Linked DNA regions of Homo sapiens: all the other regions are linked to region 1. Evidence: fine-mapped expression QTL. A gene starts in region 1. Each other region holds a variant in brackets. All regions are shown on one strand. Distances are from middle to middle. Region 1 holds the start of PKHD1L1 (PKHD1 like 1). Region 2 overlaps PKHD1L1 (PKHD1 like 1). Region 3 overlaps PKHD1L1 (PKHD1 like 1).

Region 1 (2,768 bases):
AGGAAGGAAGGAAGGGAGGGAATGAAAGAAAGAGAATTTAAAATTTTCTACTTATAAAAATTTTTAAACTAATAAAAAAGTGCAAAGGATCATACCTACACTTAAATTCAAACATTGTTTAAAATTTGCCAGATTTTTTTTCAGCAAAACCATTTTGAAGTAAATTCCAGACATAAAGACACTATGACCCCAAATACCTCATCATGCAATTCCATCACTTGAAAACACTCTTTGACTAAAGTATGATACCACTATTATACCTAATAAAATGAACGCTTCTATAATATCTTTCAATACTTGTTACTTAATCCATATTCACTTTCCCTAATTTGTTCTGCAAACGTCCTTCATAGCTTTATATTATTATTATTATTTTTTACAAACCAGGATCCAATAGAAGCTTATGCATTGCTATTTGGGTAATAATCTTTTAATATCTTTTAAAAACACATAACATTTTAAAATGTAGAAACTGCAAACTAGGTAGGTGGATCTTCTCATCTTTTTTTGTTGTTTGTTTTTGAGACGGAGTCTCACTATGTCGCCCAGGTTGGAGTGCAGGGGTGTGATCTCAGCTCACTGCAACCTCCGCCTCCCGGCTTCAAGCAATTCTCCTGCCTCAGCATCCCAAGTAGCTAGGATTACAAGGCATGCGCCACCCCACCAGGCTAATTTTTGTATTTTTAGTAGAGATGGTGTTTCACCATGTCAGCCAGTCTGGTCTCGAACTCTTGACCTCAAGCGATCCGCCCACCTCGGCCTCCCAAAGTGGTGGAATTACAGGCGTGAGCCGCTGTGCCCAGCCCCTTCTCACCTTTTAAAGAGTAGGGAGAGGTGGGCAATCAAGAGATCCTGAGGTTAAGATATTAAGAACAGTGAGAGGATTTGGAATTAGCCCCTGGGGAGCATTCAGTGGTGAATAATAAACTGCCTTCTCCAGGGAGGTCAGAGAAACTTGCGTTTCATTCGTCTGCTATCTGGCATCCCAGAAACAGGTCAGCAGTGCTGGACCTCCCTCCATGCCAACAGTAAGCCTTCGCCCTAAGTCTACTGATTGTCAATTAAAGAGAGAGCACAATCTCATATGAATGTGAAGGGGTAAACACGCGTGGGGTTTGTGTATTAGGTGGTCTTATAGGCCCACCTGGGGAGGATTAATGACCAAGGCAGACAGGCAGATGAAAGTACGCGGGGAAAGAGAGAAAAGAAAAGAAAAGAAAAAAAACAAAAAGAAAATAGAGAAGGAGACCTAGGGAGACCTCAATGACCATTGATTCCTTTCGCCAAAAGGAGTAAGGCCCTTCCACCTATGGGGACAGCCTTGGGAAGGCAGCACCCAGGTTTGAGTGTGGAGGTTTGATTATCACGGACTGGCTCGGGGCCGGCTTGGTTCTCCCGCGAAGGTTCCAGGGTGTGTGTGTGTGTGTGTGTCCGCGCGCGCATGCAAATCCCAGAGGAGCAGCCCGACAGCAGGGGCGGGGCAGGCCACGGGAGGGCGGCCCAGTTCCCCAGCTCTCCCGGGACGAAGCGGGCCCGCCAGCGAGTCGCAGTCCCAGGAGCCGAGCTCCAGCACTAGAGCCAGCTGCGAGCGGAGGGCACCAACTCCGCAGAACTGGCTTTTCAATGGGACACCTGTGGCTCCTGGGTATTTGGGGCCTCTGTGGGCTGCTCCTGTGTGCCGCGGATCCCAGCACAGGTAACCCTTTGGGCACGCTAGGCAGGCAAGCAGGAGAGGCCCGCGTAGACACTACCCCTGCTCCCGGGGTCCTGGGAGAGGCAGGACCACCTGGCACCTGGCTGAGGCTGTGGGTGCGGTTGCATGACGATCCTGGGGACCAGGGGAGCTGGATAGCAGGCCTAGCAAACAGAGACAGACGCAGAGAGAGAGAAACAGAGACAAGGACACAGAGAAAGAGATTGCGAGAGATTGCCTTTTAACTCATCAATGCTGCTACTTGAATGATGAAATCTCCCACCGGCACCCACAAAGTGACACAAGTAGACTGAAATTTGGCGGGGGAGTGGGGACTGGGAAGAGGCAACCTGAGTCCCTTTTCCTCCATTCTTCTTGGGTCGCTTTCCTCACAACAGAAAGGGCAACAACCCCCAGTAGGACGGGGATGGGACTTCGTGGCAGGTGTCAGTCATTTCCAGGGGCAGCTGCCCTGTGTTTTCAAAGTAATACCCAGAAGAGGGCTGGGAAGAGACTGATAAGATAAGAAATTGGAGTTGTCTGTGGAGATAACAGGAGGATGAACCTGAGATAGGCGAGGAGCAGCACTGTCTGGAGATAGGATCCAGCTTCCCCGCTGGAGTTTCCTACTCTTGGGCTGCCCTGAGATATGAATGTGCGGGAATAAGAACACCTTGGAGCTCTTGGCAAAGACAGACCCGAGGTACAGAGGCACTGGGTCTGGGGCCTCGGAACTGGTCTCCTTTATGTTGGAGAGCTTTTGCTACTATAGGTGAAGTCCACTCTAAACCTTTTTAAGACAGAACTGAACAAGCCAATCATAATTCCCTTAGCCTTTTTATATACATCCATTTTGAGAAATTAATAATTTCTGTGGCCTTTCTTTGTATCATCCCTTAAATTTTTCTACCTACTGTGAAAATTTCTTTTAGGATTCCAGCAATTACTAGATCTGTACAGTGTAAGCAGAAAATAAACACCTCTATCCACTGTGTAGCTTTGAGTTGTTTTAAAGAATTATTTGCAATACTCCAAAGAAGCAGCTCACACAATCCTGTTTGCCCGGGCAGTTCCC
Region 2 (2,768 bases), 90 kb after region 1:
GCCATTACTCCTGCTTTCTCCTATGCCCGGACAGTGCAGAAATACAGTCATGCAATGTGTACCTATATGCTCGTAACTTAAGCTTAAGGCAAAAATAGTACTAATTGCTAACATTTATTGAGTATTTATTTTGTGGCAACTACCTGCCTACCCACGGAGAAGTCCTGCCTTACTTCCTGAGATGTTTTTACCTCGTTTTATGGTTAGAAGACAGATTAAACAGGTTAGACATCTTGCCCCCAATCCTAGTATGTAGCATCACAAATATAAATCACCTTCTTGTTATGCTTTCTCCATCATCTTATCTCCAGCCATGATCTGCTTCATTGGATCAAAGAAACATCTTTCCATACAGCAGTTCTATTCCACTGTAATTGCTCAAGTTTCTTTTTCTTAAACATACTCATTATTTGGCTCAAATTTGTGTACTGCATTGTCATCATTATTCAGGTGCGGAAGGCTGAAGTCAAAACACCAGATCGCATACACCATAGAAGCTCATTGTAACTCCTCAAGCAGTTATGATTACCTTGAACTTGCATTTTTATCTGGAGGTTAAGTTCTAAAGTCCACAAACATGATGAAAATGTCACATGGACAAGTGATCCTTGAAAATCTCTTTTAAAAGTACCTGTTGGGAGATCAACATAGAATCACTGAACAACAACAATCACTGTTTCTTTCCCCAACACTGGAACATCTGCTAGTTACAGTCCTATTTTCTGGACTCTTAACCTCTTTGTTTACTTTTTTTCAATAAATATTTTGAAGTCTTAATATTGAAAAAAAGCATCAATCTACACTTTGGTGGCTGATAGAATCAGGTCATTTTTTTTTTGCAATAATACATAGGAATAAAAGGGTTTGACAGTGTGATCTAGATATTTGAGAAAAACATACATGTTATGTTTTCCCTCTTTTTTACAGTGAAAATATGGAGGATGTTCATATCACCATAGCTGAAGCCAAATGTGATGTTGAGTATTCCAACAAGACACACATCATCTGCATGACAGATGCCCATACTCTATCAGGGTGGGCTCCAGTTTGTGTCCACATCAGAGGTGTCGGCATGGCCAAACTG[G/A]TAATAGTGCTGTTGGGTATAGTAATCACAGCAATAGAAAACCAGCATTATGGGAGGTGGGCTAATTGGTAATTGTTGTTTTACTTTAATGTCTCCAAAAAAATAACTGAGCTGTGACCATAATAAATCTAAAGTAGCTTACATTTTTTGTTGCTTTTCCTAAAATTTTTATTATTTTAGATTTTTGATTTTTCTGAGTTGTGGGGTAATTGGTAATAGATTTTTTAAACTTGATCATTATTGTGAAATAAACCAAGAGGCAATTATGACACATTTTAAGTAGGTTAGATTTTATTATTAATAAAATGCTTATTGTTTATATATATTTACTATATAATATAAATATATTTATATTGTAATAAAATGCTTTTTGAAAAATCGAATGAAAAACTCTGGTAAAATCCCTAAATTTTAAGGTCTCTTATGTTCTATTACAGGATAATGCTGACTTTCTTTATGTTGATGCCTGGTCCTCCAATTTCTCATGGGGGGGAAAATCTCCCCCAGAAGAAGGATCTCTTGTTGTTATTACAAAAGGACAGACCATTCTGCTGGATCAAAGCACCCCTATTTTGAAAATGTTGCTTATTCAGGGTAAATTTCTGAATATCTGTTCATTGGACTCTGCCTGATAAATATTTCTGTGAAACTGATTTAATCAAAATCCACAATTATGAACAAACATAGTTGCACTATCTTTTTAATATACAGTGTAGTCCTGGGCTTTCTAAATTGAGTATTACAATCCATTTGTGATTATGATATTATTTAATGTGTTGCAGCCAGCATTTTAAAAATTAAATAGGATAGACAGCATCAGAATAGATTGCATGCATATGGGTAAGTACCTTTTAAAGCTAAATGTTGTTTTATGAAACTTTTGGTTCAATAACAATGTGGGGAGGTGTGAGCATGCCCGCCCACTTTCACTAGATCACAACAAAAAAGGTATTTTCCACTTTGAAAAACACTGATGTAGTGGGTCCCAGGAAATAAAAAGTCATCGAGATTTGTTCAGGTCTATCCTAAATGATCCCCTTGACTCCCTTTGGAAGATAGGTTGTGATTTTCACCTTTGCCTGTGAACCTGTTTATGTTGTTGCCTGGGTTTGTCTCTGCTGCTGTGTTTTATTTTTTACTATGGAAAACTAAATAACCACAACTGTGATAATTGCATGTAAAAGAATCATTAATTGGTAAGAGTAGACTGCTTGAGGATTTAGTGCACAAACTTTGCCATAACAGGCTTAGCCACCGGAAGACTCCTGCATTGTTATTTACTATTTTTAACTTCTGGGAAAATAGAAAAGTTTCAGGTTTTTGAAGTTATTAAATATTGGACCTTTGGACAAATAAAATTTTACTACTTACAAATTTATAAATTTACACTAGTCTCATAAAAATGTATCTTGGTATGATCTTTAATAATGCTAATCAGGCTATAGCTGTTGAGAGTGCAAATTAATGGGTAAAAGTTCAAAGCTAATGTTGACATTATAATGGTTTTTATAAACATGCTTTTCTTTAATTGCTTTTGTTCTTAATTTATATTTTGAGGTGCTGTGTTTGTACAACGAATTTGCATAGCTGAGCTATTTAGTAGCATCTAAAATAAGCTACTTTCCCAATGTTCAAGGGAAAATAATCTTCCCTGGGATTTGATTTTCTGTAAACTCCCATGGTC
Region 3 (2,768 bases), 160 kb after region 1:
TTTTAAGTGAACGTTTTGCTTTGGCACTTGGCATGCAAAATAATATCCCTGTGTTATGAACCTATACATATTTTGGGAGTTACCCAAATGTTTATGATCTTTGTCTCTGCTCCTTTCATTACTGTGAAATTCCTTCTTCTTCCTAAAATTTTAATTTCTTTTTCCTAGTAAGCCTCACAATGAAATGTGGTAAGAAGCTACATATCTCATTCCACCACTATTACACAATTCAGTGTTTGTCTGGGCTCAATAAGTGTTAGTGGGTTTGTTAGCTCTTAGAAATTGTTGATACTCTGCCATAAAATCATACATATATTCATTCATTATAATGATCTCAATCACTTTTGTAAAATTCAGTTTCCTAGCAGAATTTGTCTTGCATTAGCCAAACATTTTTCAGGCTGAAATGTAAGCCTGTTTAGTTGGTATAAGATTCTTCTGAGATGTTTTAATGTATACTTCATTTTTATTACACAGTTTTGTCCTTAGTTAAAATAGAAACACTGAATTGTAAATGCTCTTTTAAGAGTTGGCATATAGCACTGTATAAATTAGATAGCTAGTAAAGTTAAATTTATATTTTTAAATTACCAAATGCCTTCAGTCAAGGCTTTAAAATTATGAGCATGTGAATAGGGTTTCAACTACAGTATAGGCTCCTGGGATCATAACTTGATTTGTTTCTCATTTATACTGTGTCTATATAGCTAATTTTTAAAAAACAAACAATGTGTAATGATTATTTGTGGTATTTTTTAAAGGAGTGGCTTTAATTTCGCAGGTCAGTTCTATAAGTGTTTTTGTTTTTAAAAAGGTATGCTTTCTTATGAAAGAATGATAAAGTTGAATTTGGGGGACTTTCTAAATTCAAACAAACATTAAGTAACGCATGTTGATTGTGATAATATAAAATACTTAGCTGTGATGTTCTGGCTTTTTTCCTTCATAGACCAATTCCTTCCTAACCTGGATTCCACTGTCCTTGGTGAAAACTACTTTGATGGAACCTACCAGATGCTTTATCTTTTGGTTAAAGGAACTATACCTGTTGAAATTCACACTGCCACAGTGATATTTGTTTCTTTCCAATTATCTGTTGCAACAGAAGATGACTTTTATACCTCTCACAATCTGGTTAAAAATCTTGCCTTGTTCCTAAAGATACCAAGTGACAAAATCCGTATCAGCAAAATAAGAGGGAAGAGTCTGAGGAGGAAGAGATCCATGGGATTCATAATTGAAATAGAGATTGGAGACCCTCCTATTCAGTTCATAAGCAATGGCACCACAGGTATGAATAACAGGTGTTTGAGATGGAGGAATGCAATTACCAAATCCATATCCATAAATAACCTGATCAGGGCTTGGTGAGCCTGGCCTCAGGAAATCCCATCAACCCCACATCCTGAACCCTCTAAGTGCCCAGAGAC[C/T]CTTTTTCCTTCTTTGCTCCTGTACTACCAAACTGTTTTAGAATTGGAAGGAATTTGAATCTCTGTTTTGTTATTGTGATGATTAATAAGTTCAACAAAAGAATTTGATCTAATATAAAAAGATCTGGGAAGACCTACTTAAGCAAGTGACCTTACAGATGAGAGATTAAGGATGAAGATAGTCAATGAAAAGACAGAGGAAAAAGAGTGTTCAAGCTATGGAAACTGTTGGTGAGAGTTTGGTGCATTTGAAGAGAGGAAACAGGTCCGATTGGTCTGGAGTGGAAGGAGCCAGGAAGGACAAGCTGCTGGAGGTGTAGCCAAGGGGTAGACAGGTGCTAGATGTGGAAAGCTTTGGAAGTCAAAGGAAGGACTGTGGATGTTTTCTTAAGAAAAAGAGTAAATATTCTTGGATATTCTGAGCAGTAGATTGGTGGGTTAGATTTCCACAGTAAAGTCACAGATTCAGCCCAAAAAGGGCAGATGTGCAAGTACATAATCTGTCTTTATTTCCTGTGACTGAGCGAATCATCCTCACAAGCCATCATCCCCTCTCTGTGTCCCTCACTTCCTATTTTTTATCAGAGATAAAAAAATAAGCTCAACTGTCCCATCAGAGAAATCTCTGCTGGCTGAAATCATTTCCTTAGGGTCACTCAGTTTGGGCACTTGAGTAAATGCTCAGCTCTTCAAATTTTCTCTATCCATCTGCTCCTTTCAAGTTGGGGTCTGAATACCAAGGGGCTGTTCTGGCCTCCGTCCTCATGTTATCATCTTGTCTTCACAGCCTCTGGTACAGAGTGGGTCATCTTCTCTGCTCTACATATGCATCTCTTGAGGTACTACTGAACTTTCCTGGTCTTCTGGGATGCAATAATATCCCCCACTGCTAACCTGCAACCATGCCTTTGTCTTCAGTGGTCAAGCACAAGTACTCTGATCTAGGTGTACCCCTCCCCAAGAACAGGAAAGGCAGGTATCTGTCAGAGGAAGACTTACCATCCAGTTAATGAAGCTTACACTTCAAGCCCCCTCACTGATACAAGTCCTGGGAGGGGCTTTCACTTTCAATACCTTAGGAGAGGTCCTCATAATGTGGTCAAATCATTGAATGTTATTATGAAAGCTACAAAGGTATGATTTTTCTGCATTCCTTTTCCTAAAGAGATCGTCCAGACATATATAAACTGCAGCCCCACTAGGTTGGGATCTACCCTATCTACCTGTGTTCAGTCACTTTATCATTAAACTCCCAGGCTCTGTGTAAACCTGGGTACTGGGTGAAGTTCTCACTTTATGCCACTAGAGATCTTCACTCATTTTCCCAAGAGGTTTGCT

What was found. PIP is the estimated chance that this variant, and not a neighbour inherited with it, causes the effect.
Region 2: its variant is fine-mapped to the expression of PKHD1L1 in whole blood (INTERVAL, PIP above 0.99).
Region 3: its variant is fine-mapped to the expression of PKHD1L1 in whole blood (INTERVAL, PIP above 0.99).

The regions. Positions count from the first base shown.
Region 1 is chr8:109,360,958-109,363,725 of GRCh38, forward strand. It overlaps PKHD1L1 (PKHD1 like 1), which reads left to right and starts at 1,504. Exons shown (of 78, transcript NM_177531.6): 1 at 1,504-1,696. The coding sequence starts at 1,624.
Region 2 is chr8:109,451,197-109,453,964 of GRCh38, forward strand. It overlaps PKHD1L1 (PKHD1 like 1), which reads left to right. Exons shown (of 78, transcript NM_177531.6): 42 at 928-1,084; 43 at 1,522-1,678. Among named protein-coding and RNA genes, the nearest start is that of EBAG9UORF, 87 kb to the right of the region's middle. The variant G/A (reference allele first, on the strand shown) is at 1,085.
Region 3 is chr8:109,517,218-109,519,985 of GRCh38, forward strand. It overlaps PKHD1L1 (PKHD1 like 1), which reads left to right. Exons shown (of 78, transcript NM_177531.6): 73 at 950-1,291. Among named protein-coding and RNA genes, the nearest start is that of EBAG9UORF, 21 kb to the right of the region's middle. The variant C/T (reference allele first, on the strand shown) is at 1,431.